2 linked regions of the Homo sapiens genome follow. The protein of the gene in region 1 purifies or fractionates together with the protein of each later gene. This does not show direct contact. Each region holds a gene or a part of one and is shown on either strand. Other genes may lie near its edges.

Region 1 (16,318 bases):
CCTGAGGCCTGTTTAAAGACTACTGTGAAAATCCAACCCAGGAAAACCTAAAGTGTCTGAGATTTTTCCTAGAAAATGGAATTCTGGGTTTTTCTGATTTTGTGTGTGCCTGTCTCTAGTTTCTGAAATACTCATTTGAGTAGGGCTTAGATTATGGGTTGTGGTGGTTGAAACAAGTTATTGTGGAGCTGGTTATTAGGTATGTGTGTGGCAAAGGGTAAATTGGGGCTGCCTCCTTGTCTTCACCTTCCTGCTTCCAGGTAAGTTCTTGCTTGCTTGCAGGACAGATTGTGATGAAAGCTTGTTATCCCAGGGTTGAACTCAGGCTATAATCCTGTAATAGAATTAGTAGACTTCGCAGAGAAATTAACCACTAGGCATCTGTCCCACAACCAAGTTCCTTTTGTATGTATGACACATTTATCAGAGCATTTGTAGATAAGGTCTAACTGAGTTCAGTTGGCATTTAATTCATTTCTAAGCCTGGATGATCTTGTAGTAATTGCAGCCAGATGTTGGCTTTATATTTTTATTCCTCGGTCTCAGAGCTAGGCCTTTCTTGGGCAGAGTGAGCTTTGGGAGTGATAGATGAGATTCTTCTCACTAAATGGTTCCATACCTGTGGGAGGGAGTTGAGGGTGGGTAGCTGTTTTTCTATGGTGACAGTTTGGTGCAGTAACCATAGATCATATGAAAGCAAGCAACTAGGTGTTACATTTTCAGCCTTACCTATAAGATTAGTGAGGTTCTGGGTAAAGGTTGACATTAAAGAGGGAGGACAGGAATAGATTTCATTTAAGCAATTAACTGGCCTTTAGAATTGGGGACAGGATATGAGTTGATTAGCTTCTTATTCAGTATTAGAGTATAGAAATGAAACTGTAAGAGGAATAAATTGTCAATCCTTCATGTTTGTATTTTCTTTTAGTGTCTACCATCAGAGGGAGATCTCTGCCCCCTGGGGCTGAGAGACCCCAACCTTTCCCCAAGCTGAAGCTGCAGGGTATTGAGGTACCAGCCAGATGTCTTCCCACAAAGGATCTGTGGTGGCACAGGGGAATGGGGCTCCTGCCAGTAACAGGGAAGCTGACACGGTGGAACTGGCTGAACTGGGACCCCTGCTAGAAGAGAAGGGCAAACGGGTAATCGCCAACCCACCCAAAGTAAGTCATCTTCCCAGGAGTCATCCCCTTGTTCAGTTTCTCTCCTTAGAACTCTGTCATTTTCTCTTTTTTAAGAGCTCACCGTCCAAAAGGAGGAACATTGCATCCTGGAAATGTCTCTATCCAAGTCCCTATGATACTGTTATAAACATCTTGTTGTCTGCTTTCCCCATTGTAAGCTTTTGGGAATGCACTCATCTTTGTAACACCAGTGCTTAGCACAAGGCCTGCAGTCCAATAAATAATCAGTAAATATCTGAATGAATGAAGGAAGCAGTCAATTAGGATTAGGTTTGACTTCATATAACACACAAAAATCCTTACAGTTTTGACAGGACAGAAGTCTCTCAAGCAAAAGAATTTCAGAAGTAACCAATCCAGGGCTGATATGGAGGATCCACCACTGTCAGGCACCTGTGTTGCTCTCCCATCACTCTTAATATGTGCCCATCATACCCACATTCTACCCCCCATGAAAGGGAAACGAGAAGAAAGGCCCTCTCTTTCCCTTTTATTTTTATTGAGATAAGATCTCGCCATGTTGCCTAGGCTGATCTTAAACTCCTAGGCTCAAGTGATCCTCCTGCCTCAGCCTCCCAAAGTGTTGGAATTACAGGTATGAGCCACTGTGCCCGGCCAACTCTTTGCCTTTTAAAGGGACTATCAGGGCCGGGCACGGTGGCTCACACCTGTAATCCCAACACTTTGAGAGGCCGAGGCAGGTGGATCACCTGAGATCAGGAGTTCGAGACCAGCCTGGCCAACATAGTGAAGCCCCCTCTCTACTAAAAACACAAAAATTAGCTGGGTGTGGTGGCAGTCGCCTGTAATCCCAGCTACTCGGGAGGCTGAGGCAGGAGAATCGCTTGAATCTGGGAGGCAGAGGTTGCAGTGAGCCGAGATCGTGCCATTGCACTCCAGCCTGGGCAACGAGTGAAACCCCCTCTCAGAAAAAACAAAAATAAATAAAGGGACTATCAGGAAGTACCTCATAAGACTTCGGCCAGAACTTACTTACATAACTATATTCAGCTGCAGTGGAGGTTAGAAAGTGCAGCCTGAGTAAAATTGCAGTAACATTGCCACCCTGAACAAAACCGTGGGCTTTGTTACTTAGGAAGAGAGAGAATGGATGTTAGGGTAGACTGGCTGGAAGCTGTAGCACAAAATCTAAGATGGACCATGTGTTTACTAGTGACCATCAGCAACAGGAGAGAAATAGCCCAGAAAAGGAGTTGAACTGCCAGGCTTTCTATAGCCATGATTCGGAGCCTTGGGATAGAGAGAGAGAAAGTTCTCTCCCTTTCACAGGCAAGTGCTCTCCTGGGTGTGTTTTTTTTTTTTTTTTTTGGAGACAGAGTCTCGCTGTCGCCCTGGCTGGAGTGCAGTGGCACGTTCTCGGCTCACTGCAGGCTCCGCCCTCCAGGGTTCATGCCATTCTCCTGCCTCAGCCTCCCGAGTAGCTGGGACTACAGGTGCCCGCCACCTCGCCCGGCTAATTTTTTGTATTTTTAGTAGAGACAGGGTTTCACCGTGTTAGCCAGGATGGTCTCGATCTCCTGACCTCGTGATCCGCCCGCCTCGGCCTCCCAAAGTGCTGGGATTACAGGCGTGAGCCACCGCGCCCGGCCCTCTGGGTGCGCTTTTTTAGGCCCTGGAGTCAGTACCGCTGTTTTCCATGGAACCAGTTCTGAGGCCCTGGTACTCCTGGGAGCTGCTGTAGATACAAAGTTTCAATCATGACAGCATCCCTAGAGTCAGTGAACAGGGAACTCTGAACAGAATTATTGTTATGGAACTCTCTGAGACTCTGTGTCTTTTTCGTTGTTTTGAAAACGTAGGCTGGGCATGGTGGCTCAGCCTGTAATCCCAGCACTTTGGGAGGCCGAGGCAGGAGGATCACGTGAGGTCAGGAGATTGAGAACAGCCTGGCCAACATGGTGAAACCCCATCTCTACTAAAAATACAAAAATTAGTCAGGCATGGTGGTGGGCGCCTGTAATCCCAGCTACTTGGAGGCCGAGGCATGAGAATTGCTTGAACCCGGGAGGCGGAGGTTGCAGTGAACAGAGATCGCACCACTGTACTCCAGCCTGGGTGACAGAGGGATATTCCATTTCAAAAAAAAAAAAAGAAAGAAAGAAAATGTAATGGCTTAGAAAAGAGAACTCTTTGGGAAACTGAGGAAAGTTAAGAACCACTATCCTAAAGAAAAGGATGTCATTCAGTACCTAGAGCTGGTGTATTCCCCCAATGCTAGTCTCTGTGACAGTCCTTCTTTTACGCACTGCATAGAATGTTCACTCCAGCATTTACGAAGTATTAATAAATTTCTAACTAGTGTTGTAAACTCAGTGTGTATGCTTTTGGAGAAGAGACCACAAGACCCTCTGTAGGAAAGAGGCTGGGCAGAAGGCATTAGGTTTGGGTTTTTCTGGGTCTCTCTGCTCTGGAATAGTACAATTTATGAGATGACTCCCTGGATTGTTGTGGGTTTTTTCCCCCATAGGCTGAAGAAGAGCAAACATGCCCAGTGCCCCAGGAAGAAGAGGAGGAGGTGCGGGTACTGACACTTCCCCTGCAAGCCCACCACGCCATGGAGAAGATGGAAGAGTTTGTGTACAAGGTATGGCCTATGAGCTTCTGTCCTGGAAGGGGAAGGGCAGCAGGCCTGTCTGGGATGTCCCCAGCCAGCAAGCTTGCACTGGGTCGAAGAGCTTTTATTCCTGGGAAGGAGTGGATTTGTTTTTTGGTTAAGATGAGGTAAATCAATGTGAAGACTGGCTAAATTTTTACTGCCTACTCTGTGAGGCATTGTTCAAAATATATTCTTAAAACGGATTCTTTTCTATGCAAGGGGCGCCTTTGGAAGTCATCAAAATATTTCAATATGACAGTAATATGAATGCCTTTGTTAACACATTAAATATACATGAATGATGAGCACTAATGTATTTTATTAAAATTTGTAATTTCTAAGTAATGATGAATAGAAACAGTATTTTGAGATACCTGCAGAACTAATGTGTGAGAGTATCTGATTTCTATTGGTGACAAAGCCACAAGTTCTACTAATACTGTGGTTTGTTGCTTATGCTTATAATTGAGGAAAATGCTCAATTTACTTAGAGGTAAATGGAAATACAATTTTTTCCATCTATTCCCTGGATCCTGTCCATAGTGCATGGATCCTAGATTAAGAACCCCTACTCTAAAAAGATGTGGTAAGAACTTAGAATCTAATTGGGGGAGGGATGAGACATGAGATAGAATCTCCTGGAGAGGGGCAAAGGAGGGATCTGTACGTTTTTTAAAACAACGTTTATAATTTTTTTGTTTTTATTCAGTATATCAATTTTGAAATTTCAAGTAGCCTAAAGGAGGTTGTACCATATATATATATATATTTTTTTGAGACAGAGTTTTGCTCTTGTCTCCCAGCTGCAGTGGCACGATCTCAGCTCACTGCAACCTCTGCCTGCCAGGTTCAAGCACTTCTCCTGCCTCAGCCTCCCGAGTAGCTGGGATTACAGGCATGTGCCACCACGCCTGGCTTATTTTTGTATTTTTAGTAGAGACGGGGTTTCTCCATGTTGGTCAGGCTAGTCTCGAACTCCCAACCTCAGGTGATCCGCCCGCCTCAGCCTCCCAAAGTGCTGGGATTACAGGCGTGAACCACTGCGCCCAGCCTGGTTGGACCATATTTTCTTAAAAGGTTGAGAAACACTTACCTAAAACTTCTCCAGATAAACTAACATGAAACAAAGACAAAGAGATTTTTTGTTTGTTTGTTTTTGTTTTTTTGTTTTTTTTGAATACAGAGTCTTGCTCGGTCGCCCAGGCTGGAGTGCAGTGGTGCAATCTCGGCTCACTGCAACCCCCGCCCGCCAGGTTCAAACCATTCTCCTGCCTCAGCCTCCTGAGTAGCTGGGATTACAGGTGCCCGCCACCATGCCCGGCCAATTTTTTGTGTTTTTAGTAGAGACAGGGTTTCACCATGTTAGTCAGGCAGGTCTTGAACTCCTGACCTCAGGTGATCCACCTGCCTCAGCCTCCCAAAGTGCTAAGATTACAGGCATGAGCCGCTACACTCAGCCAGGATTTTTTTTTTTTTTTTAATGGTCAAAATATGAGTCAGGACTCTGCTAGCCCCATTCATGCTATGTCTTGGATATCCCCCAGTCCAGGCTGGTTCTCCACTATTACCTAGGACCATTCAGAGCCTGACTGACATCTTCTTAGACTAGTTCTCCATCACTGCTTGTCCTTGGGGAAGGTACTATCTAGTGCCCTACCCAGAGAAAGTGTATATGTTCTAGGTCTGGGAGGGACGTTGGAGGGTCATCCCATATGATGTGCTCCCTGACTGGCTAAAGGACAACGACTATCTGCTACATGGTCATAGACCTCCCATGCCCTCCTTTCGGGCTTGCTTCAAGAGCATCTTCCGCATTCATACAGAAACTGGCAACATCTGGACCCATCTGCTTGGTGAGTGATTTGGATGGGGAAAGGTGGAATTTGTTGTCTCCCTAACTGCGAAGGGATTATAGAGCCCAACAAAGTTGTTCAGATCGATTGGCAGCTGGGATTCTACCTTTAAACTACTAATGACTTTAAGCTAATAACCTTGGTTGACCCTTGATCACTGATCTTTAAGACTGAGAGTAAAAGGCCTAGAAACCAAAGAAATTGGGACTAGATATTTTTTTGTGATCCCTGGCAGAACTGTTCTAGGTGGAGACAATTCCTTGTACTTCGTAATTTCCAACTGTAAAAGTAAAATGCCAACATTTCAAAAAATGGTCTTTTTTGTCTGGGTTTCTGTGACCAGTGCCACTTTCTTTGAAACATTGGACTGCAATTACACAGCTAAACCTCATAGCTTTCTGATTTTTTTTTTATTTCAATAGCTCTTGGGTTACAAAGGGGTGGGGGGGGGTTTGGTTACATGGATGAATTATATACTGGTGAATTCTGAGATTTTAATGCACCCATCACCTTAGTAGTGTACATTGTACTCAATATGTAGTTTTTCTGTCTCACACCCCTATCTCCCCCTCCCGCTTCTAAGTCTCCATAGTCCATTATATCATTCTATATGCCTTTGCGTACTCATAGCTTAGCTCCCACTTATAAGTGAGAACATATACAGTATTTGATTTTTCATTCCTAAGTTACTTCACTTAGAATAGTGGCCTTCAGCTTCATCCAGGTTGCTGCAAAAGACATTATTGCATTCCTTTTTATGGCTGAGTAGTATTCCATGGTGTACATACACCACATTTCCTTTATTCACTCATTGGTCAATGGACACTTAGGTTGGTTCCATATCTTTAGAGTTGTGAATTGTGCTACAATAAACATACATGTGCATGTGTCTTTTTCATATGACTGCTTTTCCTTTGGGTAGACACCTGGTAGTGGGATTGGTGGATCAAATAGTAGCTCTACTTTTAGTTCTTTAAGGAATCTCTATACCCTTTTCCATAGAGGTTATACTAGTTTATAATTTACATTCCCACAAGGAGTGTATAAGCATTCCCCTTTTACCATATCCATGCCAACATCTGTTGTTTTTTGACTTTTTAATAATGGCCTTTCTTGCAGAAGTAAGGTGGTATTTCATTGTGCTTTTAATTTGTATTTCCCTGATGATTAGTGATGTTGCCTGTAGCTCTCTGATTCAAAAACATCAACCATCAAAGTGTACACATTCCCTTTTTTCTTACAGGTTTTTTTTATTTTACCCTCCTGCAGGTTTCGTGCTGTTTCTCTTTTTGGGAATCTTGACCATGCTCAGACCAAATATGTACTTCATGGCCCCTCTACAGGAGAAGGTGGTTTTTGGGATGTTCTTTTTGGGTGCAGTGCTCTGCCTCAGCTTCTCCTGGCTCTTTCACACCGTCTATTGTCATTCAGAGAAAGTCTCTCGGACTTTTTCCAAGTGAGTTAAAAGAACACCATAGGAAAATACTGTGCACTGTTGTCACATCTTGAGATCCCAGTGCTTACTGGGTGATAGGAGCTCATATCACTCCTAAAGGTTTCTTGATATGCCAGAGGAAAGGCTCTCTGTTCTGTGGCGATAGTGGGGTGATGAAGCTTTTCTCTTAAACACTTCATGAACAGACTTACTGCATCCTCTTCAACAGATGGAGAGACCAATTGTGGAATATATTTTCTACCTGAAAAGCACTATCTTTTGTGAGGCTTAGAGTGCCAGTGCACTGGCTGCTTTCCAAGACCTTGTACAAGCGTAACTTACTATTAGCCCAAGCCAAAGTAGGGTGTGGTAAATAGTCTATGCTTCATTCTGCTGGTGCTCCTACCCAGCAGTCAAGTAAAGCTTATCTTTGCTGCCCATGCATTGCTGGAAGCTCCAGATGTCCATCATCGTGTGCTTTCTCTCTTGCCCAGCCGTGAGCCTGAGGTTCTATTTGTTTGCTTGTTTTTGTTGTTATTGTTGGTTTTGGTGGCGACAGTGGTGTATTATTTTGTTTTTTCTAACAACACCAGTAAGAAGGTACATTTTCCTCATTTAAAAAGTCAACTAAGATAGAAAAAGCTAGAGTATCCCTTAATACTACTCCCAATTTAAGAATTTTGTTTTTAGAACTCATTCTATCAGAATAGGAGAATTTTCAAAGCCTTTCCTGAGTGTGATGCTGGGAACCAGCTGGATTGTGATGGAATTTCTAAATTCAAGTGTCTACTATGGGAGATACGGCTGTTCACTAGTAAGGGAAAGGGATAGAGTTCTTTGAATGGGGATTCTTAGAGATTTTTCCATCGTAAAATAGAAGTGACCTTGTGGAATTTTAATCCAGAATACAGGATAGATTGTATGGGAGTCTACAATACAGGATAGATTGAGGGAATGGTTAAATCTGGGAGCAGGTGGAGAACAGAAAGAGCTAGTTAAATGAGCCATACAAATTCATTTCCCCCACTGATTTGTTTCATTTTTGTGGTTCTTTTTAGACTGGACTATTCAGGGATTGCTCTTCTAATTATGGGGAGCTTTGTCCCCTGGCTCTATTATTCCTTCTACTGCTCCCCACAGCCACGGCTCATCTACCTCTCCATCGTCTGTGTCCTGGGCATTTCTGCCATCATTGTGGCGCAGTGGGACCGGTTTGCCACTCCTAAGCACCGGCAGACAAGAGCAGGTAGGTCGGAAGATGTACGTACACCTCAGAGGTATTTAGACCTTAGGCCTGATAGGCTCAAACCTATTTGAGCCTTAAGGTTTGCAGCTTGAGAACCCCACCCAAACCCTGATTTGTGTTTCAGAACTTTCAAAACAGCATCAATTTCAAAGCTCAGTTCTCAACCCCCAGTGTCATACTATTTCAGTAGAATGCCAATAGGACAGATCATTACCCAGCTGGTCAATTAACTGCAAGCACAGATGTAGCTACTCTTATACTTGGTTTGTGACAGTTTAAAAATGTAGCAAGCACAGTAATTTTAGTGACCCGAGTCCCAAGCTCAGACCAAGGGATTAAAATTAAAACACTCAGAGGCATTTTACTAAGGGAATGGAATACCTGGTTTGGTGAATGAAAATACCTTGAGCATAAACAGGTAACAAAGTAATAGCTACAAGCATAAACATCTTTGTGTTGTCTCATCTCATCTGGACTCTTATTTTAAGCTTTTATTACTTGCAGCAACACCACCAATTACCACTAGTCTTTAGTCCCTTTACAATTAATATCTGCTATGTTTTAACCTTCAGTTAAAATAATTAAATATTGTCCGGGAGCAGTGGCTCACGCCTGTAATCCCAGCACTTTGGGGGGCCGAGGCAGGCGGATCACTTGAAGTCAGGAGTTTGAGACCAGCCTGGCCGACATGGTAAAACCCTGTTTTTATTTAAAATATAAAAATTAGTCGGCGTTGTGGCAGGTGCCTGTAATTCCAGCTACTTGAGAGGCTGAGGCGGGAGAATCACTTGAACCTGGTCGGGGGCAGAGGTTGTAGTGAGCCAAGATCACGCCACTGCACTCCAGCCTGGGCAACAAAGCAAGACTCTATCTCAAAAAAAAAAAAGAAAGAAAGAAAGAAAAGAAAAAAATAATAATAATTAAATATTTATCAAGCACCAGCCACGTGCCATGCACTGTGCTTAAACAAAGGTATTTACAAAGATGGAGAGGTGGTCCCTGCCCTTCAGTTATGTGTAGTGTAATGATGAGACACATACCCATTCTTCCCTTGCTCTTGCCTTACTTGTGTGTCCCAGCAGCTACAGGATAACTGCTAATCTGGGTATATCTGTCTACTCAGGAGGTCAGAGTTCTGGTTATGTAAGACTTTTATGATCTTAACAGGAAGCCTATCCTATGCTTCTCTGACTTGGGAGGCAACTGAAGCCTTGACATCTAAGTTCTGTACCCAAGTTAGCCATCAGAGAGTCTTGACATACCATTTTTACCTAAATTCCTTAACAGATAATGAAGAATATGAGATCTTTGTTCTTGGTGCTTAAAAGGTAGTAAGCACTTACACAGCTTCTTCCCATTCAGGACATAGAAGAAATATCTGTTGAGTGTTATCCATCTTGTAGCTAAGTTTCCTAAACATGTACTATTCATCCAAAAATAGCTAATTATCATAAACATTGAAATTCCAGAGTAAGACAGCAGTGCCTTCCATGCGGTGGCTGTTTCCTTGTTTGACAGTCTTATGTCTGTTCTGTTCAGGCGTGTTCCTGGGACTTGGCTTGAGTGGCGTCGTGCCCACCATGCACTTTACTATCGCTGAGGGCTTTGTCAAGGCCACCACAGTGGGCCAGATGGGCTGGTTCTTCCTCATGGCTGTGATGTACATCACTGGAGCTGGCCTTTATGCTGCTCGAATTCCTGAGCGCTTCTTTCCTGGAAAATTTGACATATGGGTAAGAAATGAATCTTCCAGCAGGTCCTGTGATGGTGAGTGAACAGCCCAAAGTTAAAGGGCTGAGGAAAAGGTGGTATGAGACTGGGATCATATAGTGTTTGGAGGTACATATATGTGCATTGAAGGTAAATCATCAATATTAACATTTTGGTGTATCTCTGACAAGGACTGTGTTTTTAAAACTTTCTAAATATACCACTTTAATGTTATTAACAAATTTGTTTAATTAAGGATAAACTAGAAGAAGCAAATGCTTTCTCCTACTTGTTTCTTATTCCTCCTTGCATTATCCTAAAGGCTCTTTTCTTTTTATTCCTACAGTTCCAGTCTCATCAGATTTTCCATGTCCTGGTGGTGGCAGCAGCCTTTGTCCACTTCTATGGAGTCTCCAACCTTCAGGAATTCCGTTACGGCCTAGAAGGCGGCTGTACTGATGACACCCTTCTCTGAGCCTTCCCACCTGCGGGGTGGAGGAGGAACTTCCCAAGTGCTTTTAAAAATAACTTCTTTGCTGAAGTGAGAGGAAGAGTCTGAGTTGTCTGTTTCTAGAAGAAACCTCTTAGAGAATTCAGTACCAACCAAGCTTCAGCCCACTTTCACACCCACTGGGCAATAAACTTTCCATTTCCATTCTCCTAGCTGGGGATGGGGCATGGTCAAACTTAGCCATCCCCTCCTCAGCAAGGCATCTACCGGCCCCTCACAGAGACAGTACTTTGAAACTCATGTTGAGATTTTACCCTCTCCTCCAACCATTTTGGGAAAATTATGGACTGGGACTCTTCAGAAATTCTGTCTTTTCTTCTGGAAGAAAATGTCCCTCCCTTACCCCCATCCTTAACTTTGTATCCTGGCTTATAACAGGCCATCCATTTTTGTAGCACACTTTTCAAAAACAATTATATACCCTGGTCCCATCTTTCTAGGGCCTGGATCTGCTTATAGAGCAGGAAGAATAAAGCCACCAACTTTTACCTAGCCCGGCTAATCATGGAAGTGTGTCCAGGCTTCAAGTAACTTGAGTTTTAATTTTTTTTTTTTCTTGGCAGAGTAATGTAAAATTTAAATGGGGAAAGATATTTAATATTTAATACTAAGCTTTAAAAAGAAACCTGCTATCATTGCTATGTATCTTGATGCAAAGACTATGATGTTAATAAAAGAAAGTACAGAAGACACTTGGCATTCAAAGATTTCACATGTATGGTCTTGATTATTTGCACACAACTCCAAAACATTAAGTAAGACCTGTGATAATTTCAGATTCTCCTGAGGCACAAATTTGAATCATAGGCATTGACAGGCTGGCACATGCAGGCCAATAAATGGACCTAATTGAATTCCTAGCATCCATTCCCCAATACAGCTTTACTTTTTTATGTAATTGTTGCATGGATTATCTTTTTACATTTTTAAATTTTTTTTTTTCATAGAGCCATTTGAAAAGAACAGACCATCTTGTTAGAGAAATCAGTATGCTATAGTAGTGTTCAATAATTAGGAGATTCTCAGGGCTGGGTGCAGTGGCTCACGCCTGTAATCCCAACGCTTTGGGAGTCTGAGGCGGGTGGATTGCTTGAGGCCAGGAGTTTGAGACCAGCCTGGCCAACATGGTGAAACCCCCATCTCTACTAAAAATACAAAAATTAGCCTCGTGGTGGTGGGCGCCTATAATCCCAGCTACTCGGGAGGGTAAGGCACGAGAATCACTTGAACCCGGGAGGTGGAGGTTGCAGTGAGCTGGGATCACACCACTGCACTCTGGCCTGGGCAACAGAGCAAGACTGTCTCAAAAAATAATAGACTGGATGCAGTGGCTCACGCCTTTAATCCAAGCACTTTGGGAGGCTGAGGTGGGTGGATTATGAGGTCAGGAGTTCAAGACCAGCCTGGCCAAGATGGTGAAACCCCATCTCTACTAAAAATACAAAAATTAGCCGGGCATGGTGGCGGGCAGGTATAATCCCAGCTACTTGTTGCTTGAACCCAGTAGGTGGACGTTGCAGTGAGCCAAGATCATGCTGCTGCATTCCAGCCTGGGAGACAGAGCGATACTCCACCTCAAAAAAAAAAAAAAAAAAGTATAGTAATAATAATTAGAAGATTATCAAAAGTGTTGGAATACATCCCAAAGTTTAGGGATATATCCCATGTTGCCTAAGGTTGTCTCATCCAGGGGTCATTCCATGCTTTTCGGTGCTATTGTGAATTGTACTCAACCTGACATGAGTTCTGTTCATTATATAGCGCAAGATATCAGTAATCACTTCTCAGCTAATGCAGGCAGTTTAAGGGCAGTCTTTTTGAGTTAAAGTTGGGTTCATGTCAAGAGTCAAGTTTCTACAATGGAAGAACAAATTATCCTTTTAAAAAAATAATCCACCTACACCAACAGGAAAAGTTTCTCTGCCTCAAGTAACCAAGGAAATGTAAATTAAAACCAAAATGATAATCTGTCTTACTCCAACCAGACTGAAACCAAATTAGAAGCCTAATATTGAGTGTTGGTGCAGATGTAGAGCAGACCAGATGCTGCTGGTGGAAGTATACATTGCAGGACCACTTTACATGGACACACAAAGAGTGTATACATGTTGACAACATTCAAACATTTCGTGAAATGACACTATACAATATGAAATGCATCTGATATCTAACCTAGGTTACTTCACTTAAAAACAGTGCTGGCTGACCCACTAAATTGTTCTCATGACTCAGTAATGGGTCGCTACTCACGCTTTCAAACACACCGCTCTTGGAAAAACCTGGCTTGTACCAAAGGGTTCATTGCAGCTGTTTGTAGTAGCAAAATGTTGCAAACAAGCCAAATGTCCCAAACTGTTGAATGGAAAACTATATCTTGGTGTATTCATATAACGAAACACTGCTGGTGAAAATGAATTACAGTGACAAGCAACAACATGGTTGAGCCTCAGAAATAAGATCGGCAGGAAGGGAGGGAAGCAACAGAATACATTTGCATAATTGCATGTATGTAAAATTAAGAAAATTGCTAAATTAATGATAGGTTTAAGGATACAAACATGGTAAAAACTTTAAAGAGGGAATGTTAATTTAGAATAATGTTTACCTCTGAAGGACTAAGAATCTTTAAAGTTTGTTATTTTAAGTTAGGTGGTGAGCACCTACGTGATCCTTTTGCCTAAGATCATGTGATACTCACTGCCTTTATGCAATGAGTGTTTTATATGTTTAATCCAAAACCATTTTAAGTCTTAAAAAATGCTTAAGGAACTGTTGGCAGAAGTCACAAACTGATGACCTGTACATCAAAAACATCCGTAGACATGTTTGGCCTTGCACAGTGAGAGCAATCAACTGCTACTCAAAAGCAGCTATGTATGTCCTTTATAGAAGGCTGGTGCACTCCAGTTCATCATGGTCCCTACCTAGGGTGATGGTCTCAGTGCAGTCATCTGCTGGCCTCTGCAGGCATCTCGGTTTGCAGCCGCTAGTATAAGAAATGGAAGGAAACCTAGGGATCATATCTGATCCAACTCCATTTTCTAGATAAGGAAATGAGATCCACAGCTGTTGAGAAGGCCTAGTGTGTGGGGGAGGATTGCTTGAGTCCAGGAGTTGGAGGCTGCAGTGAGCTATGATCACACCACTGCACTCCAGTCTGGGTGACAGAGCAAGAGCCTATCTCTTAAAAAAATAAAATAAAATAAAAAACAACCTAATGTGTGTTTCTTCATTTCTCCGTACTAGACAAGATCAGGGAAAGATGATCTAAGAGATAACATTATTGGGCACCTATTTGGTACTTTTGGTATGTCATTTTATATCGTTGACTCTGTGGAATACATAGTAAATGTAGTTAGAAAATAAGTTAGTCTTTCCCCTAGTTCTTCATTCACTAATAGGAAAGGGATAGAATCAGATTCTCAGTTTTCATTCTTGGCCTCCTTTTTTTTTTTTTTTTTTTTTTTTCTTTTTTAATTGAGACAGAATCTCACTCTGTTGCCCAGGCTGGAGTGCCATGGAGCAATCTCGGCTCACTGCAACCTCCGCCTCTGGGGTTCAAGCGATTCTCCTGCCTCAGCCTCCCAAGTAGCTGGGATTACAGGCACATGCCACCATGCCCAGCTAATTTTTGTATTTTTAGTAGAGATGGGGTTTCACCATGTTGGCCAGGGCTCGTCTTGAAGTCCTGACCTCAAGTGATCTGCCCGCCTCGGCCTTTCTTTAATCACAGTTCATCAGTGTTTGTCATTTACTTATTCCATAGTGCCTAGCACCTAACAGATTTGAGGACCACACTGGATTTCAGCTGCTATGAATCTGCTTATTGCCTCATCTAGAAAATGGATGGAGTTACATCAGGTGTGATCTCTAGGTTTCCTTCCAGTTCAATACTAGTGGCTGCAAATTCAGATCCCTCCAGGAAACTAATAATTTTTCCTAAGGTGATGGACAGGTTTGGAGCCAGTATCTGAATCCAGGTCATTCTCATTTAAAGCTCGTGTTCTAAAGACTCAGATCACTTAAAAATTCCTTTTGCTCATGTTTTCAATATCTTCCCTTGCTTTTGTCAGAACTGCTAACTAGCAGCAAGTAACTATTACCTTCTTTCTCTAATTGCATACTTCTGGTTCATTCACTTACTTTCTAAATACTTGAGGACCTGTTATGTGCTAGGCATTACAGAACAAATGACAAAAACACTGATGAGCTTGGATTAAAGAAAGGCAAAGCATAAAAGCTAAGAATCTGATTTTACCCCTTTTCCTATCAGTAAATCAAAAAATAGGGGAGAGCCTAACTTATCTCTATAAGCCATCCATTTTCTTTTAAAAAAATATTTTCACAAAGGGCTAATATCCAGAATCTACAACGAACTCAAATGAATTTACAAGAAAAAAACAAACAACCCCATCAAAAAGTGGGCGAAGGATATGAACAGACACTTCTCAAAAGAAGACATTTATGCAGCCAAAAAACACATGAAAAAATGCTCACCATCACTGGCCATCAGAGAAATGCAAATCAAAACCACAATGAGATACCATCTCACACCAGTTAGAATGGCGATCATTAAAAAGTCAGGAAACAACAGGTGCTGGAGAGGATGTGGAGAAATTGGAACACTTTTACACTGTTGGTGGGACTGTAAACTAGTTCAACCATTGTGGAAGTCAGTGTGACGATTCCTCAGGGATCTAGAACTAGAAATACCATTTGACCCAGCCATCCCATTACTAGGTATATACCCAAAGGATTATAAATCATGCTGCTATAAAGACACATGCACACGTATGTTCATTGCGGCACTATTCACAATAGCAAAGACTTGGAACCAACCCAAATGTCCAACAATGATAGACTGGATTAAGAAAATGTGGCACATATACACCATGGAATACTATGCAGCCATAAAAAATGATGAGTTCATGTCCTTTGTAGGGACGTGGATGAAACTGGAAACCATCATTCTCAGCAAACTATCGCAAGGACAAAAAATCAAACACCGCATGTTCTCACTCATAGGTGGGAATTGAACAATGAGAACACATGGACACAGGAAGGGGAACATCACACTTCGGGGACTGTTGTGGGATGGGGGGAGGGGGGAGGGATAGCATTAGGAGATATGCCTAATGCTAAATGACGAGTTAATGGGTACAGCACACCAACATGGCACATGTACACATATGTAACAAACCTGCACATTGTGCACATGTACCCTAAAACTTAAAGTATAATAATAATAAAATTTAAAAATATATATTTTCCTATTTTTTTTAAATTTGGGGTGTGTGTGTGTGTCTGTGTGTGTGTTCTATAAGCCATCTGATATGGTTTGGCTGTGTCCTCACCCAAATCTCATCTTGCATTATAGTTCGCATAGTCCCAATGTGTCCTGGGATGGATCCAGCGGGAGGTAATTTAATCATGGGGGTGGTTACACTCATGCTGTTCTCATGTGAGTCAATTCTCATGAGAGCTGATAGTTTTATAAGGGGTTTCCCCCTTTTTACTTGGCATTTCTTGCCATGTGAAAAAGGACATGTTTGCTTCCCCTTCCACCATGATTGTAAGTTTCCCTAGGCCTCCCCAGGCATGCTGAAATGTGAGCCACTTAAACCTCTTTCCTGGCTGGGCATGGTGGCTTATGCCTATAATCCCAGCACTTTGGGAGGCCGAGGCAGGCAGATCACTTGAGGTCAGGAGTTCAGTACCAGCCTGGCCAACATGCTGAAACCCCACCTCTACTAAAAACACAA
Region 2 (16,318 bases), on another chromosome or scaffold:
AGATGTTAATGATAGAGAAAATCAGGTGCAGTATATGGTAACTCTCAATACTATCTTTGCAACTTTTCTGAAAATCTAAAGCTATTTGAAATGTTTATTTTATTTTTTTATTTATTATTTATATATATATATTTTGGAGATAGAATCTCGCTCTGTCACCCAGGCTGGAGTGTAGTGGCACAATCTCGGCTTACTGCAACCTCCACTTCCCAGGTTCAAGCGATTCTACTGACTCAGCCTCTCAAGTAGCTGGGATTATAGGTGTACGCTGCCATGCCCGGCTAATTTTTTGTATTTTAGTAGAGACGGGGTTTCACCGTGTTGCCCAGGCTGGTCTTGAACTCCTGAGCTCAGGCAATCCACCCGCCTCAGCCTCCCAAAGTGCTGGGATTACAGGTGTGAGCCACCGTGCCTGGCCTAGGCCTATTATTATTATTATTTTTTTTGAGGTAGAGTTTCACTCTTGTTGCCGAGGCTGGAGTGCAATGGTGTGATCTCGGCTCATTGCAACTTCTGCCTCCTGGGTTCAAGGGATTCTCCTGTCTCAGCTTCCCAAGTCGCTGGGATTATAGGCACCTGCCACCACACCTAGCTAATTTTTGTATTTTTAGTAGAGATGGGGTTTTACCATGTTGGCCAGGCTGGTCTCGAACTCCTGACCTCAGGTGACCTGCCTGCCTTGGCCTCCCAAAGTGCTGGAATTACAGGCATGAGCCACCACCCCTAGCCTAAAAGTTTTATTTTTAAAAATCTGAGGGGAAAGGGATTTTAAGACATTTCACTGTAGGTAATAAATTCTGTCCTCTTTAATGTTTTTTGGAAAACGCAAAGAAAGATCAGAATTATTTTAATTACATTTTTCTTGCTGAACTATGTATTATTCTTTTTTTTAGAGACTGGTTTTTTTAGAGACTGGGTTTTGCTCTGTCACACAGGCTGGAGTGCAGTGGCTCAATTGTAGCTCATGGCAACCAGTGACTCTTGGACTCAAGTGATCCTCCCACCTCAGCCTCCTGAGTAGATAGGTTCAGGTGTGTATCTCCAAGCCCACCTAATTTTTAAATTTTTGTTCTAGAGACAGGGTCTTGCTATGTTGCCCAGGCTGCTCTTGAACTCCTGGGCTCGATGCTTTTGCCTCAGCTTCCCAAAATGCTGGGACTACAGGAATGAGCCTCGGTGCCCAGTCCATGAACTATTTCTTTTAATGCAACATAGTAGCCAGGTGTGATGGCTCACACCTGTAAGCCCAGCACTTTGGGAGGCTGAGGTGGGAGGATGTCTTAAGGCCAGGAGTTCAAAACCAGCCTGGGCAACATAGTGAGACTCCCATCTCTACAAAAATAAAATAAAAATAAAAATAAAAATTAGCCGGGCATCGTGGCTCATGCCTATAGTCCCAGCTACTCTGGAGGCTGATGCAGGAGGATTGCCTGAGCCTAGGAGTTCAAGGCCATACTGGGCAACATAAGGAGACCCCATCTCTACAAAAAGTTTTAAAAAATTGCTGGGCATGGTGGCACAAACCTATGGTCCCAGCTACTCGGGAGGCTGAGGTGGGAGAATTGCTTGAGCCTGGAAGGTCAAGTCTGCAGCAAGCTGTGATTGAACGACTGCACCCCAGCTTGGGTGACAGAGCAAGACCCTGTCTCAATAGATAAATGAATAAATAAATAGAAAGAAAGAAAGAAAAAAGAATAATGCAACACAGCTCGAAACCTGGGCTTCTTAGGGCCGGAGAGCTACCCAGCATCCTGAAACCATTGAGAACACAAGGAGGATGACTTCATCTTGGGAATGTTCTGGAAGCCTCACATATGCTAGAAGTCAGGACGGAGTGTCAGAGCAGTTGACTGAATCGCCTTCCAGTTCCCAAGTGAGACTGAATCCCTTAAATTAAAAGAGCTTGGCCAGGCGTGGTGGATCACACCTGTAATCCCAGCACTTTGGGAGGCCAAGGCGGATGGATCACTTGAGGCCAAGAGTTTCAGACTAGCCTGGCCAACATGGTGAAACCCCATCTCTACTAAAAATAAAAAAAAATTAACCAGGCTTGGTGGCACACACCTGTAGTCCCAGCTACTTGGGAGGCTGAGGCAGGAGAATTGCTTGAGCCTGGGAGGCGGAGGTTGCAGTTAGTGGAGATCACACCACTGCACTCCAGCCTGGGTGACAGAGCAAGACTCCGTCTCAGAAAAAAAAAAAGGCTGGGCACAGTAGCTCACACCTGTAATCCCAGCACTTTGGGAGGCTGAGGTGGGTGGATCACCTGAGGTCAGGAGTTCGAGACCAGTCTGACCAATATGGTGAAACCCTGTCTCTACTAAAAATACAAAAATTAGCCGGGTGTGGTGGCCTGCGCCTGTAGTCCCAGCTACTCAGGAGGCTGAGACAGGAGAATTGCTTGAACCCAGGAGGCGGAAGTTGCAGTGAGCTGAGATTGCATCACTGCATTGCGACAGAGCAAGACTCCATCAAAACAAACAAACAAACAAAACAACAACAACAAAAAAAAACTGCCACCCTAATGGCTCCCTTGGCTGACACATGCCCAATCTATGATGGAATCCAATTACAGAAACAAAGATGAAAAAGAACCATATTTGACTCATAGGAACCTGGGATTGGAACACCTGGAAGATGCTGGGGTCCCTTGTGCACTTGTCCATGTGGCCAGACAGTTTAGGCACTTTCCAAATCTGCTTCAGTGCCAGTAACTTACTCTTTTTCTGCAGAGCAAGGAGTGAGCAGGCTGTGCAAAAAAGAATTCACACGACAGGCCTGAGGGTGATATCCATAGAAAGTCTGCTGGCCAGTTTGGCCCTTGGCTGTGCCTGGAAACTTGGACTTCGGCAGTGTTCCCAGCATTTCTAGAACTGATCAAACTGATCAGAGTGACAGACTATGCCTGAACTATTTGTACATACAATGTGGTTCATGAGAGTCTGGAAATCTGGTATGAGCTAGGCAGAGGGTACCTATGTGACTGGCCCCCAGTAAAAACTGAGTTACTTGGTGACTGAGTTCTAACAAGCTTCCCTGGTTGATAAATATCACAAGTATTGCCACAACTTGTTGCTGGAGGAATTAGGTGTGTCCTGTGTGACTCTACCAGGAAATAACTCTTGGGAACTTGGCCCTGGTTTCCTCCAGACATCACCCCATGTGCCTTTTCCCTTTGCTGATTTTGCTTTGTATTCTCTGGCTGTAATAAATCATAGCCCTGAGCTGGGGATGGTGGTTCACATGTGTAACCCCAGCACTTTGGAGCCTGAGGTGGGCAGATCGCTTGAGGTCAGAAGCTTGAGATCAGCCTACACAATATGGTGAGATCACATCTCAAAAAAAAAAAAAAAAAAATAGCTAGGCATGGTGGTGCCTGCCTGTAGTCCCAGCTACTCAGGAGGATGAGGTGGGAGGATAGCTTGAGCCTGGATCAAAGCTGCAGTGAGCCGTGATCGTGCCACTGCACTCCAGCCTGGGTGACAGAGTGAGACCCTGTCTCAAAAAAATAAAAATGTATATCATAGCCATGAGTATAGCTATATGCTGAATCCTGAGAATCCTTCCAACAAATCATTGAATTTGGGGGGTGGTCTTGGGGACCCTTTATATTCTTACCTATAAAATTAGGCTATTCTTATCAATAAAACTAGCATAAAGATTTTCCCTGATTCAAATCTTTATTGGGAGAGTCACGGAGGAAAGTATGGTTAGCTCCATTTGATCACTGAGAAAACATGCACAGAAAAGATAGGAAACATGTGTGAGGTTTCGCAGCTAAGATGGGCAAGGGGGTTGGAACTCAGGTTGTCTGTTTCCACACCCCAGCTCCATCTGTCTGTGACAGCGCAGAGGTCAGTCTTACTTTTAAAGATTGGGGATGCGTCGCCTCTGCTCTCTCCACCCTCTATTCCTTTTCCCTTCACTCTGGTGTACCTGTCTGGCAGGTAAGACAGCACTTGTGGAGAAACAGGAGGGAAGGAGGTGTCAATTCCAGGTATCATCCCACTCACTGGAGCCTGGACACACCCCTCATTATCTTTCCCCTCCCTGCACCCACTATCATCTCCCTCTCCTTTGTTTAATTATCTGTTCATCATCGTCTTCATCCTCATTTCTTTTCTTTTTTTTTCTGAGATGGAGTCTCACTCTGTCGCCCAGGCTGGAATGCAGTGGCGCGATCTTGGCTCACTGCAACCGTCCTCTCTTGGGTTCAAGCCAGTCTGCCTCAGCTTCCTGAGTAGCTGGGATTACAGGCACCTGCCACCATGCCTAGCTAATTTTTGTGATTTTTTGTTTGTTTGTTTTTGAGATGGAGTCTCGCTCTGTCGCCCAGGCTGGAGTGCAGTGGCGTGATCTCGGCTCACTGCAAGCTCCGCCTCCCGGGTTCACGCCATTCTCCTGCCTCAGCCTCACAAGTAGCTGGGACTACAGGCACCTGCCACCACGCCCGGCTAATTTTTTGTATTTTTAGTAGAGACAGGGTTTCACCGTTTTAGCCGGGTTGGTCTCAATCTCCTGACCTCGTGATCCACCCACCTCAGCCTCCCAAAGTGCTAGGATTACAGGCGTGAGCCACCGTGCCCCACCTAGTGCAAGTTTCTAGTTGGCTTCCAAACTGATTCCACATCTGTGTCCCACTCCTCAGCCTCTAAACACCTGCTTCTTTTCTGTGAAAACTAGACACATTAACAGTTATACTACAACAGGAAGCCCAGAGAATAGAAGGGCACGTAGTTCAGGGTGCTGCCTTCCAGGGGTTCAGTTTAGTGAGAGAAACAGGAATGCCATATACACACCTAAATATACTCCAATGTATAAATTGCAGCCTGGGCAACATAGCGAGAAACTGTCTCCAAAAAAAAAAGAAAGAAAAAAGAAAAAAACAGGCGCAGTGGCTCACGCCTGTAATCCCAGCTACGCAGGAGGCTGAGGCAGGAGAATCCCTTAAAACCGAGAGGCGGAGGTTGCAGTGAGCCGAGATCGCGCTATTGCACTCCAGGCCGGGCAACTGAACAAGACTCCATCTCAAAAAAAAAAAAAAAAAAAGAAAAAAGAAAAAAAGATGAGGGTGGGATTGTATTCCTGCAGACACCAAGGACCCTCCCTAATTAGCTCTGTGTGACTTGGGGTTGGGGCAGACAGTAGATCCAGAGGAGGAATCTTGGAGCCAAATCTTCCAATGTCTGAGTCGTTACTATCATTCAGATCTCAGTTCAAATATCCCTTTCTCAGAGAAGCCTTTCTTGACACCCATTTTAGAGCAGCACACCTCCACTCTCTAACACACTGCCTCCAGGGCACATATCGTTGCCTCCAGGGCACATATCATTCTGAGCTTTTTTACTATTATCTATCTATCTGTCATCTATTTATCTATTTATTTATTTTTGAGACAGGGTCTCACTCTGTCACCCAGGCTGGAGTGAGTGGCAGGATCACAGCTCACTGCAGCCTCAAAATCCTGGGCTCAAATGATTTTCCTGCCTCAGCCTGAGAGTAGCTGGGACTACAGGTGCATGCCACTATGCCTGGCTAATTTTTAAATTTTTTTTGTAGAGATGGGTCTCACTATGTTGCCAAGGCTGATCTCGAACTCCTGACCTCAAGTGATGCTCCTGCCTTGGCCTCCCATCGTGTTGGGATCAGAGGCGTGAGCCACCTCACCTGGCCTGGATTATTTATTCTACTCGCCAATTGTCTGTCTTCCCCAGTGGACTGCTCTGTCTTGTTCAGCCCTATAAGGTATCCCCAGTGCCTTATTAGGCCCTCAATTTTTGTTTTGTTTTGTTTTGGGGGTGGCTGGATGAAGGAATGGATGGAGACCCTTCCTCCATCCTCAGGACGCCTCTTTTTAGGAACAAGGTGACCTGTTCTTTTGAGCTTGACCAGAGGGCAGAGGTAGAACAAGGAAAGCCTACGACGGGAAGAAAGATTGGAGTGGATTGAGAAGAAGAAGGATGAACAGCTGGATTAGAGAAATTGAGGCAGGCTGCGGAGACTCAAGGAGGTTTCCAAGGGCGAAGGGCCACGGGCAGAAGACGAGTGGAGCTGCACTGAGCAGGTCCTGGCAGGGAGGACTGGGGCTGGAATAGGTGGGCCTGCGGGTGGGGCGGGGCCGACGGGGGGGGTTGATGGTCCTGTGATGGGGCGGGGCGGGAGGGAGGCGGGTCCTACAGCGGGAGGCGGGGCCTGTGATGGTCCGGGGAGGGAGGCGGGGCTTATGATGGGCCGGGGAGGGAGGCGGGGCCTGTGATGGGGGCGGGCCCTACGGCGGGCGGGGCGGGGTTCGGGTGCGAGGCCGGTCCTGCAGGCGGCAGCCAGAGCTGCGCGCCGCGGCGGCGGAAGATGGCTGCGGCCGAGGTGGCGGACACTCAGCTGATGCTTGGAGTCGGGCTGATCGGTGAGGACGTAGGCGCCCTGCCTGGAAGCCCGCACCCTGGTTCTGCCTCTGCTCCACCTCGGCCCGGGGCAGCCCGGGCTCCCGCGGCCCCCGGCGCCGACCGCATGAGGAGGGCGCGGCCCCCTCCCTGTTGGGCCTGGACTGGGGACTGCGGAGCCCGGCCTCCTTGGTGCAGGGGACCCGGCCCGCCGCCCTCGCCCGCCCGCCCGCGGCCGCCTGTGGGGCCTGCCCGGCCCGAGGGAGCCCGGGGACCTCCAAGATTCCGGGGTGGAGCTCCCCCTGCACGCCCCGGGTTGCCCGGCGGAGCCGGGACGTCGAGCGCTCCCAGGCTGGGCAGCTGCGAGGGGCGCTGCGCGGGCGGGGCCGGGCCGGGCGGGAGCAGCCGGCTGGCGGCGCGGCGCGGCGCGGCGGGGAGGAGGCAGGGTCCGGTTCCCCCGAGCCGGGGGCGGGCGGCTGCCTCGGAGCCACGGGTGACTGCCCGCCCGGGCGGCCCCCATCGTGGGACCGGGCAGCTGGAGACTGCTGGGCCGGGTGCTGCGCGTTGTACACACATTGTCTCCTTTTAGCTCTCACCAAGGACCGAGGGGCCGTGGGAAACGTCTGACGCCCACTTCACGGAGGAGCAAATGGAGGCCCAGGCCGTCATTGTGCACGGACACACCATAGGCCGTACAGAGCCGGGAGTGGGACCCTCGCAGTGTATCCCAGAGCCCCCAACCCCCACCAGTGGAGAGCTCCTGCATCATGTGATCGAGCTTGTGCATAAATAAAGCAGGAGTTTCTACACAATCCTGTGTGGTGGAATCTCGGTTAGCTCTGAGGAATGTAATTATCTTCCATAATTAAAAAATATCACACGGGGATCTTTGGGCAGCCTCGTGCAGTATTTAGGGGATGGAACCCGTTGGTTCCCTTCGAAAAAGTTTTATTTTCCCGAGATTTTTGCACACCCCTAAACTCTTTCTATTCCCCAAGTGCGCAATAACATTGCTTAGGCTTTAGCAAAACTGAAGAAATATGCTGATTATTTTTCAGTGCCTCAAAGCAGTGCGTTTATGTGGGAATCGCTTACTGTTTTTATTTCTTTGTCTTTCTTCTTTTTTTTTTTTTTAGACGGGGTCTCCCTCTTATCCAGGCTGGAGTGCAGTAGCGCAATCATCGCTCTCTGCAGCCTCCACCTCCCAGGCCCAAACCATCCTCCCGCCTCGGCCTCCGAGTAGCTGGGACCTCAGGCGTGCACCACCACCCGATTAATTTTTGTATTTTTTGTGGAGATGGGATACCGACATGTTGTCCAGGTGGATTACTGTATTTATTTCTAATGTGATTTTCAAACTGCTTCAAAACAAAACCTAAGTAACTTAGTTTCTCCAGAAGGTACTTTTGAACTAAGGCTAAGTTAAACTGTCTTTATCTACTAATAGCAAATAAAAAGATGACATATGATCATATTTTGAACTCAGCAGTTTTTTAATTATTCACACTAACGTGCATTTAAAAGGGGTTTGCAGCCAGCCTGGGCAATGTGGTAAAACCCTCGTGTCTCTACAAAAAATACAAAAATTAGCCGGGTGTGGTGTGCCTGTAGGTGGGAGGATTGCTTGGTCCCAGGAGGCAGAGGTTGCAGTGAACTGAGATCATGCCACTGTACTCCAGCATGGGTGACAGAGTGAGACCCCCCCCAACCCCGTCTCAAAAAAAGAAATTGAAAAAAGAGGCCAGGCGTGGTGGCTCATGCCTGTAATCCTAGCACTTTGGGAGGCTGAGGCAGGTGGATCAATTGAGGCTGGGAGTTGATCAGCCTGGCCAATATAGCGAGACCCTGTCTTCACTAAAAAGGCAAAAAATTAACTGGGCGTGGTGGTGCACACCTGTAATCTCAGCTACTTAGGAGGCTGAGGCAGGAGAATCACTTGAACCCGGGAGGTGGAAGTTGCAGTGAGCTGAGATCAGAGGTGGAGGTTGCAGTGAGCTGAGATTGCGCCACCGCACTGCAGCCCAAGTGACAGAGTTAGACCCTGTCTCAGAGAGAGAAAAAAAAACAGAATGTGAGTGTCTTTTTTAGTATAATGATTTCTTTTCCTTTCGGCAGATACCCAGTAATGGGATTACTGGGTGGAATGGTAATTCTGTTTTCAATAACAATTTTTTATTTGTAGTCTTTAGAGACAGGGTCTCTCTCTGTTGACTAGGCTGGAATGCAGTGGTGCATAGCTCACGACAACCTCTGAATCTTGGGCTAACTTGATCCTCCCACCTTAGCTTCCTGAGTAGCTGGGACCATAGGCACACACCACCATGTCCAGCTAATTAAAATTTTTTTTTTGTAGAGATGCGGTCTCACTATGTGGCCCAGGTTGGTCTGGAACTTCTGGCCTCAGGCGATCCTCCTGGGTTCCCAAAGTGTTAGGATTATAGGCATGAGCCATTATGCTTGGCCTAAACAATTTTAAATACAAAATTCACACAGTTGGTATGCAACATGGTTTGAAATATTTCACTATTTTCTTCATCTCTGGTTTTGTTTTCGACAAACCTTTTCTATGTATTTATTAAAAATTATTCGGCTGGGCACGGTGGCTCACGCCTATAATCCCAGCACTTTGGGGGGCCGAGGCAGGCAGATCATCTGAGGTGGGGAGTTCGAGACCAGCCTGACCAATGTGGAGAAACCAAAACCCCATCTTTACTAAAAATACAAAATTAGCCAGGAGTGGTGGTGCATGCCTGTAACCCCAGCCACTCGGGAGGCTGAAGCAGGAGAATAGCTTGAATCTGGGAGATGGAGGTTGTGGTGAGCTGAGATCACTGCATTGCACTCCAGCCTGGGCAATAAGAGCAAAACTCCATTTAAAGAATTATTCCGCCCAGCACTTTGGGAGGCCGAGGCGGGCAGATCACCTGAGGTCAGGAGTTCAAGACCAGCCTGGCTAACATGGCGAAACCCTGTCTCTACTAAAACTACAAAAATTAGCTGGGCATGGTGGTGGGCACCTGTAATCCCAGCTACTTGGGAGGCCAAGGCAGAAGAATCGTTTGAACCTGGGAGCCAAGATAGCACCAGTACACTCTAGCCTGGGTGACGGTGAGACTCCGCCTCAAAAAAAAAAAAAAGAATTATTCCAACTAGTTAAAAACTTAATGTAATTTTAGTTGATAAGCATTTGTGTGGGAGGAGATAGGGAGAAACTCTAACATCTTTCTTTGTCTTTTTTTTTTTTTTTGAGACCAAGTTTTGCTCTGTTGCCCAGGCTAGAGTGCAGTGGCGTGATCTTGGCTGACTGCAACCTCTGCCTCCCGGGTTCAAGCAATTCTCTTGCCTTAGCCTCCTGAGTAGCTGGGATTACAGGCATGCCCCACCACACCCGGATAATTTTTGTATTATTAGTAGAGATGGGGTTTCTCCAGGTTGGTCAGGCTGGTCTCGAAGTCCCGACCTCAGGTAATCCACTCGCCTTGGCCTCCCAAAGTGATGGGATTACAAGCATGAGCCATCGTGCCCGGCCAAAACTCTACCATATCTCTAAGGCTGAATTTTCATTCATGGTTTGTTATAAAAACTTTTTACTCAGGTGGCCTGTAATTCAGGATCATGACAGCTAGATAATTTGAGCAGTAGAGATAGGTGGGAATTTGGGGTGTCAGGTATTGTGAGTTGCTTTGTAAGATGGGATGTTAAAACTGATTCCACTAAGTGTTTCTGAGTAACCAATCAATTCACTTCCTTGCTGCTGTTTGACATTCTCACAGTGACCATCTTTCCACCGTAGAAAAGGACACAAATGGAGAAGTTCTGTGGGTGTGGTGTTATCCTTCCACGACAGCCACATTAAGGAACCTGCTGCTGAGAAAATGCTGCCTTACAGATGAAAACAAACTTCTCCATCCCTTTGTCTTTGGTCAGTACAGAAGAACATGGTTTTATATCACAACAATTGAAGTTCCAGATTCTTCCATTTTGAAAAAGGTATGATTGCGTGAAGGTAAAAAAAAAACCCCAAAATAGGCTGGGCGCGGTGGCTCATGCCTGTAATCCCAGCACTTTGGGAGGCTGAGGTCGGCAGATCACAAGGTCAAGAGATTCAGACCATCCTGGCCAGCAAGGTGAAACCCCATCTCTACTAAAAACACAAAAATTAGCTGGGCGTGGTGGCGCACGCCTGTAGTCCCAGCTACTCAGGAGGCTGAGGCAGGAGAATCGCTTGAACCTGGGAGGCGGAGGTTGCGGTGAGCCAAGATTGTGCCACTGCACTCCAGCCTGGCGACAGAGCGAGACTCCGTCTCAAAAAAAAAAAAAAAAAGAAAAGAAAATATTAAATATTATTTTCATTGGGAATACTCTGTTTCACACTTCACTCTCATTCATTCTATAAATATTTATTGTTGTCTATTATATGACAGACCCTGTAGTTGATACAGTGGTGAGCAGTACAGCAATATGTGGTCTTTTCCCCTTTTTTTTTGTTTTTGTTTTTTTGAGATGGAGTTTTTCTGTTGGTCAGGCTGGAGTGCAATGGCGCAATCTCGGCTCACTGCAACCTCCGCCTCCCGGGTTCAAGCGATTCACCTGCTTCAGCCTCCCGAGTAGCTGGGATTGCAGGCACCCACCATCACGCCTGGCTAATTTTTTGTATTTTTAGTAGAGACAGGTTTTACCATGTTTGCCAGGCTGGTCGTGAATTCCTGACCTCAGGTGATGCACCCGGCCAGGATAAATTAAGAATTTAGAAAGGCAGGCCGAGCGTGTTGGCTCACGCCAGTAATCCCAGCATTTTGGGAGGCTGAGGCAGGCGCATCACCTGAGGTTGTGAGTTCAAGACCAGCCTGACCAACATGGAGAAACCGCATCTCTACTAAAAATACAAAAAATTAGCCGGGCGTGGTGGCGCATGCCTGTAATCCCAGCTACTCGGGAGGCTGCGGCAGGAGAATCTCTTGAACCCGGGAGGCAGAGGTTGTGGTGAGCTGTGATTGCGCCATTGCACTCTAGCCTAGGCAACAAGAGCGAAACTCCGTCTCAAAAAAAAAAAAAAAAGAATTTAGAAAGGATATTTAAGGCAGCTTGTGTATTAAGTAGACTTTTCTTGGTGTGTTGTTTGATATGAACAGTATCAGTGTGACATGTGGAAGACTAGGATGTAATCGTGGACTTTCCTAATCCCAAGCAACCAGCAGGTTTTTTCAAAGAATAGAATATTGGAACAATACTTTATCTGAGCCTCTGGCATGTACCCAAACAGAGATTTTTTCCCGTTTTAGGGCTAATTTATAGCCAATAGTGCGACTATGTGAAGCATGACTAGAATACCAGCTTAAATTTTAAAAATTACATTTAAAATAGCAGGAAGGTAACAATTTAGAAACTGTAGAAGGTTTAAGACAAAACAGATTCATAGTTACAAAATATAAATTTGCAAGAAGATACTTTTTTTTTTTTTTTACGGGAGTTTTGCTCTTGTTGCCCGGGCTGGATTGCAGTAGCATGATCTCGGCTCACTGCAACCTCCATCTCCCAGATTCAAGCGATTCTCCTGCCTCAGCGTCCTGAGTAGCTGGGATTACAGGCATTCGCCACCACGTCCAGCTAATTTTCTTTTTTTTTTTTTAACTTCAATTTTTAATTTTTATTTTTTGAGTCAGAGTCTCATTTTGTCACCCAGGCTGGAGTGCAATGGTGCAATCATGTCTTACTGCAGCCTTAATCTCCTGGGCCCAAGTGATCCTCCCTCCTCAGCTCCCTGAGTAGCTGGGAGCACATGTGTGCACTACCATGCCCAGCTAGTTTTTAAATTTTTTGTAGAGATGAGGTCTCACTCTGTTGCCCAGGCTGGTCTTGAACTCCTGAGTTCAAGCGATCCTCCTGTCTTTTCTCCTAAAGTTCTGGGATTAACAGGCGCGAGCCACCGCACCTGGCCAAAAAGATAGGTTTCAATATGTAATGAAATCTTTGGTTTATTGCTCAATAAGTTCTTTTTGTTTTTGTTTTTTTTTTGAGATGGAGTCTTGCTCTGTCACCCAGGTTGGAGTGCAGTGGTGTGATCTCGGCTCACTGCAACCTCTGCCTCCCAGGATCAAGCGATTCTTGTGCCTCAGCCTCCCAAGTAGCTGGGACTACAGGCATGCACCACCACCTACTCTTCATTTTAAATGTATCTCTTCAAAGTTTTGTATTTATGAAATTCTGAATTTTGTCTCATTAGTGGAAATATTAGGTATATGTTTATCAGAAATTTATAATATAGAGGCATATAAGTAAATGAAGGTTTTTTTCTTTTTTTGAGACAAAGTCTCACTCTGTCGCCCAGCCTGGAGTGCAGGGACAAAATCTCGGCTCACTGCAACCTCTGCCTCCTGGGTTCAAGCAATTCCCTGCCTCAGCCTCCCGAGTAGCTGGGATTATAGGCACCTGCCACCATTCCTGGCTAATTTTTGTAGTTTTAGTTGAGACAGGGTTTCACCATCTTGGCCAGGCTGGTCTTGAACTCCTGACCTTGTGATCCACCTGCCTCGGCCTCCCAAAGTGCTGGGATTACAGATGTGAGCCATCATGCCCAGCCAAAACTTCTTATAATAGTACTTTTTAGCTTATGGCACCCTGCAGAGAGTTAGTTCAGGAGCTGTATGGTTGTTACTGAGATGTATTTTGTTGTTTTTCATCCTTTTATAACGAAGAACAATTGCTATTCGACAGAGCTGTAGTGTGACTATGATTAAGAATAATCTATTAATTTCAAAATAGTTAGAATAATTTGAATGTTTTCAGCATAAAGAAAAGATAAATAGTCTGGGTGCGGTGGCTGATGCCTGTAATCCCAGCACTTTGGGAGCTGAGGTGGGTGGATCATTTGAGGCCAGGAGTTCGAGACCAGCCTGGCCAACAGAGTGAAACACTGTCTCTACTGAAAATACAAAAAATTAGCTGGGCATGGTGGTGTGCCTATAATCCCAGCTACTTGGGAGCTTGGGAGGCTGAGGCATGAGAATTGCTTGAACCCGGGAGGCAGAGGTTACAGTGAGCTGAGATTACACCACTGCACTCCAGCCTGGGCGACAGAGCAAATGTCCCAAAAAAAAAAAAAAAAAAAACTGGAAAAATATATACATCTATTATGTATCAATAAAAATAAGTAAAATAAGGGTTTGGTGGTAGTGCCTGTAATCCCAGCTACTTAAGAGGCTGAGGCTGGAGGATCTCTTGAGCCCAGGAGTTCAAGTCCAGCCTAGGCAACATAGTGAGACCCCAACTCAAAAAAAAAAATAGGTAAAATAAAATAGTAAAAAAGTGTGGAGGAGAAAAGATAAGCAGTTGCTAAATTGGTGAGTCTGATTTAGCACTTCTTTCTTGTACTTTGATGAGATTAGGGGACATTAAGTAGAAATGTACTTTTTTTATATTTGAGTGAAGTATTTTTGATTTCTGAAAATTTTTTCTCTAAATATTGCATTCTTATGTAGGAAATTCAATATATATGTATATGTAATACATATGCACATGCAGAAGTATAAAGAAGCAAGTGAGGACTTGTTAAATTTTGGTCTTTTTCTTTTAATACTGTTGTGTCTTATACAAAAGGTTTGTTAGAATATAGTAATAAAAATTCTGCTAAAGTGTATTTAAAAAGTGTATTTTTTTGTTGTTTCTTTTGAACAGGTGACTCATTTTTCTATTGTCCTGACCGCCAAAGATTTTAACCCAGAGAAGTATGCTGCCTTCACTAGGATATTGTGTAGGTCTGTATAAAAATTGTATTAAATGCTAATATACAAAATGAAGACCTTAGTATAGTTACATAGCAGATTTCTACACTGAGAAAGCAAAGTTCAGCCTTGTGTCTCCCCAGCATAATCTTTAGTAGCCCTTCACAGACTGTAAAGACGGCCTTTCTCTTTTGCTCTGTTGATACTTCTCTTATTTGGGTAAATGATCTAGGGGAAGAGAAGGAGCAGTTTTATAGCTATTGTAGCTCCTGGGTGTTTTGAATCACTTCCTACTTTTGATCTGTTACTTCTGTTCACTTCCAGTCTAGAATTCCCTTAGTAGGTTGGATAAGTTAAGGGCCTTATGACATGGTAAACTGGTTCGTATGTGTCAAGGTCTGTGTGTACAGTCATTTTGGGGAAAGAATTATGCCGAAGCACAATAACACATTTCTTAGCTGGAATGCTGAGAAGCTAGGGAATTCTGATTAACTGGTTAGTCACGATTCAGCTAGACTCTTTTAGTTTCATCTCCATTGTTGAAAAATTTATCTAAAATATACCAGTCTATTTTCTTTTCTTTTTCTTTTTCTTTTTCTTTTTTTTTTTTTTTTTGAGACAGGGTCTCACTCTGTTGCTCAGACTGGAGTGCAGCGGCTTCATCATGGCTCACTGCAGTCTTGACCTCCCAGGACTCAGGTGATCCTCCCACCTCAGCCTCCCATGTAGCAAGGACTGCAGGTGCGCACTTCCATGCCTAGCCAATTTTTTATATTTTTTGTAGAGACAGGGTTTCACCATGTTGCCCAGGCTGGTTTCAAACTCCTGAGCTCAAGTGATCTGCTCATGTTGGCCTCCCAAAGTGCTGGGATTATAGGCGTGATGAAACTCTTTTTTTATGTGTTAAAGATATTAGCTCTTTCTTAATGATGAAGGCTTTTGCAGAGTTTTATTTATTATGTTTTTTTTTTTGAGACAGAGTCTCCCTTTGTTGCCCAAGCTGGAGTGCAGTGGGGCGATCTTGGCTCACTGCAACCTCTGCCTCCTGGGTTCAAGCGATTCTCTTGCCTCAGCCTCCCGAGTAACTGAGATTACAGGTGGGTGCCACCACGCCCAGCTAATTTTTTGTATTTTTAGTAGAGAGGGGGTTTTGTCATGTTGGCCAGGCTGGTCTTGAACTCCTGACCTCAAGTGATCCGCCCGCCTTGGCCTCCCAAAGTGCTGGGATTATAGGCGTGAGCCACCGCACCCTGCCTTGCAGGGTTTTAGTCGTGATTTTTTTTTTTTTTTTCTGGTTGTTGTCTTTTTTTTAGCGACACGGTCTTGCTCTTTTGCCTAGCTTGGAGTGCAGTGGCATGATCATAGCTCACTGTAACCTTGAACTCCTGGGCTGAAGCAGTCCTCTCACCTCAGCCTCCCAAGTAGTTAGGACTACAGGTGTGTGCCACTGCTCCTGGCTAATTAAAAAATATATATATATTTTGTAGAAAGGTGGTCTTACTATGTTGCCCAGGCTGGTCTTGAACTCCTGGGGTCAAGTGATCCTCTGCCTTGGCTTTTCAAAGCGCTGAGATTACAAACGTGAGCCACTGCACCTAGCCCTTTAAAAAAAAAAATGTTGTTACTAGATAGAATTATAATTCTAGGTGTCATGTTACCGTCAGGCTTTTCCCTAATACAGAGATTTTTGGGGGCACTGAGGGTGAAGGGAATTGTTTTTGTTTTATAAGCCTAATAAATGGTAGGCTTTTGGCTATTTTTGTGCGTGAATGTATATACACACACCAAAAGAAGCAAAAAAAAAAAAAGAGAAAAACTCTATCATAAGACTATCTTCTCATTACCTAAGGGTTTCAGTTAGATTATATCTTGGCTAAATGAGATTTCACCATTTTTGCAACCAGCCAGAATAAAAAAGCTTCCTACTCTCATAAGAACCAGGTGAATGTCTCACTGTGGATAAACAGTTGTCTGCTAATGTGGCACTTACACAAAGGGAGATTATTATTGCCAGAAAAGACGCTATCCAGAAGCCATAAACTAAAAACACTACAGAGGTATTTTTGAACAAACATTGGACTCCCATTTCATTTGGTTGAGTCAGGGTTATGTTGCTCAACTGAATTCACTGGGAAATATTCTGGAGTCCAAAAGGCAAGGTTGCTTCAGACCCCACTTCCTGCCCAGAAGGAGGCCCAGAGGGTTTCTCAGCTTGTG

The links.
Region 2: the proteins of ADIPOR1 (region 1) and DENND10 purify together in Homo sapiens (affinity purification with mass spectrometry; 2 studies listed by BioGRID and IntAct, with this or other methods). This does not show direct contact.

The regions. Positions count from the first base shown.
Region 1 is NC_000001.11:202,935,775-202,952,092, reverse strand, and holds the end of ADIPOR1 (adiponectin receptor protein 1), read left to right. Parts: intron 1-928; 5' UTR 929-1,022; coding exon 1,023-1,163; intron 1,164-3,672; coding exon 3,673-3,789; intron 3,790-5,482; coding exon 5,483-5,654; intron 5,655-6,897; exon of another isoform or gene 6,898-6,923; coding exon 6,924-7,110; intron 7,111-8,147; coding exon 8,148-8,335; intron 8,336-9,874; coding exon 9,875-10,068; intron 10,069-10,391; coding exon 10,392-10,520; 3' UTR 10,521-11,261; downstream 11,262-16,318. UniProt on the Homo sapiens protein: Receptor for ADIPOQ, an essential hormone secreted by adipocytes that regulates glucose and lipid metabolism. Required for normal glucose and fat homeostasis and for maintaining a normal body weight.
Region 2 is NC_000010.11:119,097,795-119,114,112, forward strand, and holds the start of DENND10 (DENN domain-containing protein 10), read left to right. Parts: upstream 1-6,318; 5' UTR 6,319-6,348; coding exon 6,349-6,403; intron 6,404-6,970; exon of another isoform or gene 6,971-7,228; intron 7,229-7,516; exon of another isoform or gene 7,517-7,690; coding exon of another isoform or gene 7,691-7,701; intron 7,702-10,153; coding exon of another isoform or gene 10,154-10,173; coding exon 10,174-10,370; intron 10,371-14,054; coding exon 14,055-14,134; intron 14,135-16,318. UniProt on the Homo sapiens protein: Guanine nucleotide exchange factor (GEF) regulating homeostasis of late endocytic pathway, including endosomal positioning, maturation and secretion, possibly through activating Rab proteins such as RAB27A and RAB27B.